Homo sapiens: one gene and its partners. The protein of the gene in region 2 interacts with the protein of the main gene of each other region in a pairwise test. Each region holds a gene or a part of one and is shown on either strand. Other genes may lie near its edges.

Region 1 (3,755 bases), on a different chromosome or scaffold from region 2:
CTGCCAGCACCCCTTAAAGAAGTGGGCATGGTTGGGGAATGGAGGGCATTTCCTCTGGAAAGAAAAGGCAGAGGAACCAGTAATGGCCCAGGAGTGCTGATATCCTTACTGGGGTGCACATTTTTGTGAAATGAGACCCCTTGCCAAATAGAACTCTAAAGTTCCTTCAATTCACATGCCTAGAGAAGAAAATAATCAAACTCTTCTGTCAGGGATCACCTGGCTCCCCACATCCCCTCACTTAGGATGTTTTATTCCCACTGGAGCATGTGATTGGAAAACAAAGGTAAATAGGAGCAATTGATTCCCGGATCCTTTTTTTTCCCCAGCAGGATTAAAGCTGCCTCAGCCATAAAGAGTTTACAAACTCTAAAGAAAGATAATAACTTCCCTTCTCACGGCCCGGTCATGGGGAGGCAATGCATGTTTCCAATCAGCTGAGAATGTAACTCAAATGGTAGGTTTTATTTCACTTTAATCCGCCTGTGAGTTCACGTTAAAGGTAAGAGGAATCACAGCCCTGCAATTCAAATAGGGTTCATTAAATTCGGCATCTCCTCTTAACTGGGCTGGGTTGTTTACTCCTCCCACAGTCTTGGATGGGTTTTGAGGGTCTGGTGCGGTGTCCGGTGAACGGCTGCAATGCAGGTTAGGCTGCCACCATGAGGGAAGCTGGAGGGAGGACCTGTTAACCTCATGGTACTGTGGCGACATCAGCCACCACTACGTGTCACGGGGTGGATGCTGAGGAAGAGAAAACAGAGCAGAGCTGGAGAAGTTCGTACAGTAGATACAGTGGAAGACAGGTGGCTCAGCTGGCAGCCCACTGCAGGGGTGGTGGAGGTCGCAATGCGCTGTCCCCACCACATGGAGCTTGCTTGCCTCCGCACCTCTTTGCTGGCTGCAGCCTTGCTGCTCAGTGGGCGGTTGTGGAAAGAATCGGTTCTCAGTTCCCATTCCAGCTCTGCTATTTAGACACCGGGAGACCTGGAAACAGCCCCTTGACAAAGTCTTGCTCTACACGTTTCTGTAGTGACCGTCCATTTGAAGGGATAGGGAAATATTCCCTCAGTGTCCTGCTGTGAAACTGTTAAAGCCACCCATCCTATGAAACTCACTCCTTTGGGTTAAGCATCACGTTCTCAGTCCTTTCCTGTGTGGATGGAGTGTTGGCACAGTGAGGCGGGTGTTGCAAGTGGACGCGTCGGGGGTGGTCTGCACGGGCTGGCCTGCATAGCCCAGGGGTGGAGAGAGGGGTCAGACTAGAACCTATGGAGACTTGGTGGGCAACAGGCCTGGGCTCAGTCCAGCCAGCCCAACCTCTGATTGCTATCCTCAGAGCCCCTCCAGGGTCTCCTTGGCAGGGGCTGTCCCCTATGAGCCTCTGCAGGGGACAGGAAGTGCTGACTGAGAACTGTCTCTCTGTGACATGCACCCTGTCAAATCCATAAACCTTCCTCAGCAGTCACCACACAGAATCCCAAAACCCCAGGGTTCTGCTTGAGTTAGAGCTACAAAGTCTCAAGGACTAGAAGGAAGCACCAGCCTTGTTCTGCCCCAGCTAGAGGGTCTGCGCTGCCCCAGCCAGAGGGTCTGTGCTGTCCCTGCTGAGGCCTACAGGAGGCAGAGACATTCACCTCCACTTCCTGTCTGCCCATGGCTTCGCGGCCTTCTCACCCCAGCTGGCCAACTGGCTTCCCACCACTATGGGCCTCGCACTGCCCATGCCGGGCCTGAGGGGCCTGGCTCAGACTTTAGTATCCAAGGGGACTGCTGCCTTGACCACCAGAGCCCCCCCGTCTGTGCATCTGTCCTCTGTTCAGCTCTGGAAAGGCCACCGGGAACACAAGAGCCAACAACCCATGGCCTTTGTCTGCAAGGAACTTGAGGTCTCACCGGGCAGACAGGCACGGAGTGAGTGCTCCACCATGGGCCTCCCTTCCTCCAGGTTGCATCCAGGACTATGCTGTCTAGCGTGTCTGCTGTGACTTCCTCATGGCAGAGCCCCACACTGTGGCTGTTTATGGAGCATTTGCAAGTCTCCCTCGAGGGGAGCCCGTGTCTCTCACGGACAGCTTGGCAAGATTCACATTCTTGGAAAAGCAGAGGAATGCGAGGGTTAAAATACCTTAAAGGGCAAGGAGATGATTTCTAGATTTCCAGACAATGTCTCAGAGAATTGTAGTGCTCTGGGGTATGCCTGAATGTAACTAATGTAGCTCCTTTTGTGCCTGAGTGTAGACTGGGTCCATGTGCCTACATGCATTCAGTTCCTCCCACCAAACTGGACAGTGATAGCTAACCCTGTTGACCCTTATGTCTGGGTGCCTTAAATTTGTGATGCCTCAAACTGACCTTCACAATGACTCTAAGGAGGTAAGTACTGTGAACTTTCCCGTTTTCTACAAGAAGAAACTGTGGCACGGAGAGATTCAGTTACTTGTCCAGGATCACAGAACTATAGTAAGTGGGGGTGGGGACAAGAATTCTAACCCAGGCAGCAGTCTGACCAGAGGGCCCTAGCTGGGAGCAGCGTTCATGTGCACTGTATGTTCGTGTTTAGTGTATGTCTGTGCATACTTGCGTGTGTGCACACGCACACATGTTCACTCAGGCACGTGGGCTGCCCTGCGGTGGGAGCTGAGAGAATGCAGTGGAGGTTGTTGGGAGGAACTCACCCGCCTGCTCTGGCTGTCTGAGCAGGTGAGGGATAGTGATATCAAGTGCGAAGACCAGGCCCTGAAGCCAGCCTGACGGTTCCAGCTGTTAGGAGAAAGTGAAGGTGGGTGCCATGGATCTGATGATTTCAGTGATTTTCTACTCAAGAAAAATGAAGTCTCGGATGGGCAGAGCTTAACTGCCTTAAAAACTTGGTACAGGGCAAGGTGTGAGTTTCCCGGTGAGACTGTGTGAACTGTGAACGGGTAGAGTCTGAAACTACAAACCAGATGTTTCCGGGCTCCCTCCCGCCTGGTCTGGCCTGTCTTCCTTCTGCTGCTATGCAGTTCATCCTGGGTCCCTGAGGGCCTCGCAGATGCTTCACTCGAAAGATTGGAGTTGCAGAGTCCCCTGTGGAGGAATTGAACTGCCCCCTCTCGCAGGACCCCAGCTGGCAAGGTTTTGTTCCTCCCTGGAGGGTAGAGACCCTCACTGAGGCCCTGGAGAGGGGCACTCAGGGGCAGCAGCTCATTCCCAAAGTTCTCTGGTGGAGCTGGGGAGTGGCACCCTGGGAACTCTGGGGTTTCCCCACCAGCTCCTCTCTCCAGTCTTTGGTGTCCAGGTACAGTCTCCAGGCCGTGGCTTCTCGAGTTCTGTATGTGGGTTGCTGCTCCGTAATGCATAGTTGGGGGACCATTTTGGTCAGTGACAGATCACTGCTGCTTTTCATCAGACCAAAATACATGTGGCTTCTTCTCCTTGCCAGCCCTACCAGGGCATCTCCCATTATACTAACCCTGCCTATTGGACCTTCTGATGCAAGGAGCAGATTAAAATCCCCTCCCTGTTGCCTACCAGGTCCGTGGCTACAACTAAATCCCTAGTTGGGGAATCACAGAGCACAGGTAAGCCCTTGGGTTCTGGAGCCAGCTTACTGGGGTGTGAGTCTTCCTTAGCTCCGTGTGGATGGTGAGCCCTCCTCTCTCAGGTCTCATGATAGTAGCTAACCCTTATTAAGTGTGTGCTGGGCACTGATTGAATGCTTTACAGGTGTCACCTTCTAAGACCCTCGTAACTCTAGCAGGTAGTACTATTAT
Region 2 (3,655 bases):
ATGGAAGAGCACTTATCATATACCTTATGGACTAATGTGTAAATTAATGCAATTTGCCACTATTGATATAGATTACCTTATATTATTGGCATGGGAGAATATTATCTCTAACAAATGTGCTGTAGAGAAATAAAACATCTACATTTATTTTTTGTTGCAGTAAATTTATACTTATTATTCTACGCTCTCTTGCTCCATTACACTCATTGGTGTATATCTGCAAAGTTATAAACTAGAGAGGTAAGGATGTGGTTTGGCACTGTTATAGTTTCTCACCATTGAAAAGAATGTTGACAATCTTGTACTTATAAACGAGTGAATAAGTGAATATCTAAAGGATATAACTTTAAAAATGTGAACACATATTCCCCAGGCCAAAAGTAAAAGCAGGTCTTTATTGGCTCTGCTCACAGATAAGGGATAGTACTTAGCACTCTCCAGTGAAATACTGATATGAGGGCATTGTGTTCAATGAGTTCATAAAGAAAACATAAAGCAGCAGAAAAACAAATTGCTTAAATTTGCATAACTGAGTACATACCTAGTATCTACTAGACTTTAATTACTTTGAATAAAAGGACTGTGTGTTTATGAACACTACATATACCCTGTCTTTGTTGACAATAAACCCAAATACATCCCTGAATGGTAAGATCATAATTTTGTTCAAATATAGCTTTCATATAGACATCGTGACTATTATGCACTAACAAACTGAGCTATTTGGCTAAAAATTTACAGAAAACAATCTTCTAAAGCAGGAATCATATCTTTTTTGTTTAGCCAAAGAGCTTTATACTTAGTAGGTGCATAGTTAAGTATCTTGATGAATAAAATTTTTGAATACTTCTTGTGCATTAATATTTACCAGCCACAAAAGCTGGAAATACAAAGGTTTACAAGGTCTCTGTCTTCAAAGACTTGTAGTCTAGGGATAAAAGATAAAAGTAAGCCAAAAGTTATAACAAAATTAGTTAAGTGTTAGAATTTAGGGAAAGAGAGGTAGAAAAAGAAGAAGTTACTTTCACTGGGATGGGTCAAGTGTCAGAAGAGGATTAACTGATTAATAAATAAGGGAGAAAAGATAGTGCTTTACCCACAAAATATAAATAATCCAATTATAACACTAGGTAACGGAATCAGGCAGACAATTTGACAGTAAGACTTACCACAGGACTTTTGCACAGAATAAACAATATGTGATACTTCAAAGTATTAGAAATTAGAGAACATCACTGAACAAAATATTTTTAGTCTAACTGAATTTCTACTTTCTTTTAAGTTCCTAAAATGCCTAAAAATTACAGGTATTTAAATACACTACTATCACACTATGAATTAAAAGTATTAGCTTTACTTCCAATAGCCACTAGTAAAAAAAAATTACAATTAACACTAAAGAAAGTTGAAGTTTAAAAAAATTAAAAATATTATGTTGATCTTCATAAGCTAATATTCACCCCAATATTATAAAAATAAACCTCTATAAAAAGCCTTTTGAGAATTTTTTATAAGACACACGTTGCTCTTTCAAGACTGTAAAAAGTTACACTGATTTCCAAAGTATTCAGCTTATAAAATCTCTTATACAAATAAACATTATTGATTGGGCTTGATAATTCAATACTTAATTTTTATAATAAGGACTCAACACTAATTTTTTAATAAAAATAACAAATGCAAAAAAAAAAAAAAAAAAACAAAACAAACCAACCCATGATTTACCTGCATAGGTTTGGTAAGTGGATCCATTCTAACTAAGTAAACTTCCAAGGTGCGTTCTTTTTTCATGGGCAATGGAAGTGTCAAGTAACAAAAAGGATCAAATGTTACTGAAATCTTAGCACACTCAGGACAAACTAAAGTTGATTTGAAAAGGCCATGAAATATATCTACTATGATAGAATCATTTCGTTTTAAATGGTTTTCCCAGGCTTCTTCGGCAACCACCTACAAGGATAATAGACACAAATTAGAAAGAGGTATCACAAAATTATAACAATGGTGACAATAGGATCATGAAATTTACCTTATCTGGCCTTCCATCTGCATCTTTTAATTGTATATATGGTTTTTTCCTAATTCTATTCAAATCCTCATGTAATCCATCTAATAGGAAAGCTAACAGTTCTTGACAGTCTTGCTGCTGATATCCAGAGAACTGAGGTGCAAAACGTCCTACCTGTGTCTGTAAGAAATGCAAAACCATCAAATCAGTTCTAGGAACAGGGTTGATTTTTAAACATATGTACAATAGATTCTCATTATTCATGGATTCCACATTTGTGAATTTGCCTGCTTTCTAAAATGTATTTGTAACCCCAAAATCAATTCATGGTCATTTGTAGATATTTTCAGAGTGGCAAAAAATTTGAGTCACCTGATATGCATGTTACCAGCTGGGGTTGAACAAGGTGATGCTTTGGCTTGTTGTTTCAGCTCTGAATCTATAAACAAGTGTCCTTTGTAGTTTATTTAGTGTTATGTTTTTTCACATTTTTGTTTGTTTTGTTGTTAATTTCAGTGTTTAAAATGGTCACTAAATGAAGTACAAACATGCCAGCTAGTGTTCCTAAATGCAAGAAAGCTGTGATGTGCTTTATGGAGAAAAAGTATGTGTTAGATATGCTTCATTAAGACATGAGTTATAGCACTGTTTGCTGTGAGTTCAATGTTAAGGACTCAACAATATATATTAAACAAGTTGTTTTTAAACAGAAACACATGCAAAACAAAGTTATACATTGTCTGGTTGACGAAAATGTTGTGAACAAAGGCTTGGAGGAATCAAACCCTATAGTTTCCCTAGGAGTAATGGTTCAGTAGTTGTTATTTCAGTGTTTGTGGCAGCTTCATTGAACATAACTCCTGTGAATAATAAAAATTGTATACACGAACAACAGGAATATATATGAATTATATTTTGTTTTGCATTCCTAGTAAGCACTCAACAAAGCTTATCTGGGACAAAATAGATCAACACATGTAATCTTTAATATATAAAAATGTATTGATCTTTGTTTGGTCATAGATTTCATTGTCATTAATTGTTGTTTCACTATTTGTCAAAGGATTTTCCAGATGTCCTTAATTCTTAGCTTTAGGTATTCCTATTGCCTCCTCCTATAAATGTCTGGTAGGTAGACAGGAAGAGGCAGGTTCTCATCCTTGCTATATTACCACATAAAGATAATTACGTATCTGAAAGCATTTTTAAGATAACTACTCTAGGCTCTCACTTAGTTTCTATGCGCAAAAGGAGGATGAGTATCACAGAGATAACAGAAACATTAATGTTCATATTCAATTTTCCTAATCTTTCATCACTAAGTATTTTTGTTTTTGGATGAGACTGAAAATAAATGTAATAGTATGAATCATCATCTGACAGAAAAAAAGTCACACATAAAGAACCTATTTACACATAATTTTAAGAGAGAAAATCTACCAAAATAAAACCAATTAGAATGCTAGTAAGAGCTGAGAGATGGTTTGTCTGGACTAGTTTGTCCAAAGTTTAGAATGTTAAGGAAGACAATACAGAGGCATTTTGATTTGCTGGTTTTTTATTTTCTAAGAACTAGTATATAGCTAATAAAAAATGTTGTCCAGTAGATGTCCTCTATCAATGCCATTTAAATTACTTGTATAAATA
Region 3 (3,655 bases), on a different chromosome or scaffold from region 2:
TAACCTTAGCTTTCAATGAAAAAACCAAGTTCACATGCATTTCAACTTCCACTGAGCCAACGTTTTACACTGGGCTCTTACGATAAAATCTGGGATCAGAGTATATGCCTCTAAATTCTTCCAGACGTTTCATTAATCTAAGAGAAAGGCTGCCTTACATAATCATATAGTCTAAAGCTATATTATGAATGAAGTCATCCACCTAAAAAAAACCCATTTTTTAATTAGTTAGATGCAAGTTAGGTCAAAAAATGTTTCAGCCTTCAAACTAGCTCTTAAGAATTATTACCAAAACATGTAAAAATATGCCAGAAAAAAAAAGAGAAAACCCTGAGAAACACATGCCATAAAAATTACCTTCATACTCTCCATTTCTGTCAGCTCAATTTGAAGAGCCAGCATCTCTGAAGACATGCTTTCCTGCACACGTTCAGACATTACGCGCAGTTCCTCTGATTTACAAGAGAGGAGTTCCTTCTGATGATCTACTTGGTGCTTCAGCTGCTTTTCACTAAGCCTGGCTTCATCTAATTCCACTTTCAGTTTTTCTATCTAAAGCCAAAAAAAAAAAAGTCATAAATTGAAAGTTATTTTCTTTCTAAAAACAATCACTGATTGAACTGATTGAACCAAACTTACTGAATGATGATACTATTGGAGTTTCCTATTTGCCCAAGGTTAGGCATCTTTTAACAGCTAGTGACACACCTTGTTTAATAAACATAGAAATAATCCATGAGTAATCGGGGTGGGTCTGGATGCCTCAGAAGCAATCTGGAGGCACTATGATGCGGACCACTTGGCTACTGTGTGAAGAATGACTGGCATGAAGAGAAACAATGGAAGCAAGCAACCTGGTCAGAAGGCTACAGCAGTAGTCCAGGAAAGAGATGATGAAGGTCTGGATTGGAGTGGCAGTAGCGTCATAGATGTTTTGTAGGTCAAGTTCTTAGAACTTGATGAATTAAATGTGAAAAATAAGAGAAGAAAAGGTATTAAAAAAATCCAAATTTTGGCATAAGTGATTTGAGAAAATCAGTAAAACAAAATATTTCACTAATGTACTCTTTGCTCCACCAAAAAAAAAAAAAAAAAAAAAAGCCATCTCTATAATTAGCCTTACCTCAGTCCTGAATACTCCCTTTATTACTCTTTTTTGTTTAGGTGATGAAAACTATTGCAAAAATAAAAATAACAACCAGAGGGGGAAGAAAGCACATCATTATCAGTCATTAGGGCCTCAAATCCGACTAGTTTCAGACAAGCTGGATGATATTATCTGTCAGAGTGGTATGCAAGATGATTATATATTACATGAAGGTATATTTAGATAGCTATGTTTGTTTTAGTGTATACTGGGAAAAAATAAGCAAGCTTAAATATGTAATTTTGGCCAGGCGCAGTGGCTCAGGCCTGTAATCCCAGCACTTTGCGAGGCTGAAGTGGGCGGATCACGAGGTCAGGAGTTAGAGACCAGCCTGACCAACATGGTGAAACCCTGTCTCTATTAAAATACAAAAATTAGCTGGGCGTGGTGGCGCACACCTGTAATCCCAGCCACTTAGGAGCCTGAGGCAGGAGAATCGTTTGAACCCGGGAGGCAGAGGTTGCAGGTGAGCCGAGATCATGCCACTGCACTCCAGCCTGGGCGACAGTGTGAGACTCTGCCTCAAAAAAAAAAAAAAAAAAAAGGAAAAAAAAATACTTTCATTGATGTTTCTTAAAATCAGTAAACATTAAAAGAGAGTCAATGAGAAATTAAGTAATAGTATAGGTGGTATACAGAAAAAGAAAAATCTTAGAGGCTGCTATACAAGAAGCTGAAAATTGGGTAACAGACTTCTGAGAAAGGAGGACAAAAGTCAGGCAAGTTTTGGTAGACAGTGTCTGGAAAAGTCAGAGTATAGACTATACACAAAGCAGATCCATGATAAAAAGTTCTGGATTCCTCAGAAGCAACCTGAAAGCACTGGCTAGCTGGGAAAAGGGAAAACCACTGACCAATCATTTATCTTGCGTTTATGTTTGAAATGGAGCCAGTGTAACATGCTGTTAGACTATGTAGTGATTCAGTAACACAGCCTTTGGAGTCAGACAGCCTCAGTTCAAACCTAGATGGAGAATTTCTAGTTCTTGAATTGTGTCCAATTTACTCAGTCTGTCTAAACACTGGCTCTTTCATCTGGTATATGGAAATGATAATGGTACCTTTCCACAATATTATTGTAAGAACTGGAGCACATGTATTAGTTTATCCTCAGTAAACAAACTATAAAGTGTCATTTGTAATGCACATTAACTAGTAAGAAACTACTGGTCTGTTTTACAGAATTACAAAGCATACCACTGACTGCAGGGAAGGCTAGGAGACGAGGCTTTCTGCAAGGGGCTGCTGTACCCACTATCAGCAAGGAGGCCATGCTAGTCACTAAACTAAACCTTCACAAATATCCAGCAACCAAAATTAAATAATTGTATTTAATTAATAGGATATAATTTATACAAGTCCCTTAGACAAACTCTTGTATCTCAGTGTTCCCACCCCCAATATTAAGATAATGAAGACTTAGATCTTGGCTATTTTGCAAAGCTGACACTTAAGAAAATCTTTATCATCTAAAGTTTACAGATGGCTGCATAAATATGGAATATTTTGTGCTGAAATACGCAGATATCCCAACCTTAGTTTTTAGTTCATTCACTTCCTGTCCATGGCTTCTGCTTAGTTGTTCTTCCAATTTCTCCAGGTGCATTTTTTGTTGTTGTTTAATAGCTTCACATTCGCAGCTCAAACTTTCTAACATTCGACTCTTGAGTTCAACTTCTCTTTGAAGGGTATATTTTTCTTGTTCATAACTCTGAAAACAGATTCAATTACAATTCAATTACATAAAAATAGCCTAAAGCCATTACATACAATCAGTTTTCAACTTCAATTGTTTCATTCTTATTTCAAGCATTTGCTGCTTTCCAAATAACGAAGACATGTTAAACCTGGAATAACTTTGTAGTTAATCAGTCTTAATAAACCCCTGAGGTGTATTTCGAAACTATGTTAAACCCATGCAAGGGATACCTTACTGCTTCTGTGCCTTGTCAAGGAAGTAAAATGTGCTCCATGGTATGTCAACACGTCAAGTCAAGTAATCTCTGCTAACAACAAAAAAAGATTTAACAGCACTTAAGCTTTCCTCATGAGAATTATTAGTTTGATAATGAGATGCTCTACTTGTAGCTCTGAACACAATGTAGTAGTAATAATAGTTGAAAAAAAAGAAATACTGAATTAGCCTTTACTTTCAGAATGTAGTCATCTGAGAAATGTCACAAAAGGTCTATCAGAATGAATGCAGAGCTGAGACAAAAGGAGTAATTAAAAGGGCTTTTGCTTACTCACAGGGAAGTTTAGACATTAAAAATGTTACAAGTACGAACTCCTTCAAGAGGCTTTAAAAAATGATAAAATATTCCCCTCAAAAACCATTTTATTTTAAAGGAAGACAAAGAGTATTAACTGTTAAACACTGAAATTTGACAAGTTATGACTCAAAATGATTAAGTATAACAGTTTTATTTTCTATTAGTGATATTTGTAATCTTTACTTTGCCTTTATGACTTTGCACTCAGTTCTTGGTTTACAACAGTACTATGTAG

The links.
Region 1: the proteins of USP15 (region 2) and TIFAB interact in binary tests that used the Homo sapiens proteins (3 or more experiments, as listed by UniProt).
Region 3: the proteins of USP15 (region 2) and SPDL1 interact in binary tests that used the Homo sapiens proteins (3 or more experiments, as listed by UniProt).

What each region holds. Positions count from the first base shown.
Region 1 is NC_000005.10:135,443,768-135,447,522, forward strand, and holds the end of TIFAB (TRAF-interacting protein with FHA domain-containing protein B), read right to left. Parts: 3' UTR 3,342-3,755; coding exon of another isoform or gene 2,607-3,341; 3' UTR 459-2,606; downstream 1-458. Other genes in the region: DCANP1 (dendritic cell nuclear protein 1), read right to left, coding at 2,607-3,341. UniProt on the Homo sapiens protein: Inhibits TIFA-mediated TRAF6 activation possibly by inducing a conformational change in TIFA.
Region 2 is NC_000012.12:62,382,373-62,386,027, reverse strand, and holds part of USP15 (ubiquitin carboxyl-terminal hydrolase 15), read right to left. Parts: intron 2,189-3,655; coding exon 2,030-2,188; intron 1,951-2,029; coding exon 1,726-1,950; intron 1-1,725. UniProt on the Homo sapiens protein: Hydrolase that removes conjugated ubiquitin from target proteins and regulates various pathways such as the TGF-beta receptor signaling, NF-kappa-B and RNF41/NRDP1-PRKN pathways.
Region 3 is NC_000005.10:169,590,251-169,593,905, reverse strand, and holds part of SPDL1 (protein Spindly), read right to left. Parts: exon of another isoform or gene 3,077-3,655; intron 2,859-3,076; coding exon 2,682-2,858; intron 553-2,681; coding exon 358-552; intron 1-357. UniProt on the Homo sapiens protein: Required for the localization of dynein and dynactin to the mitotic kintochore.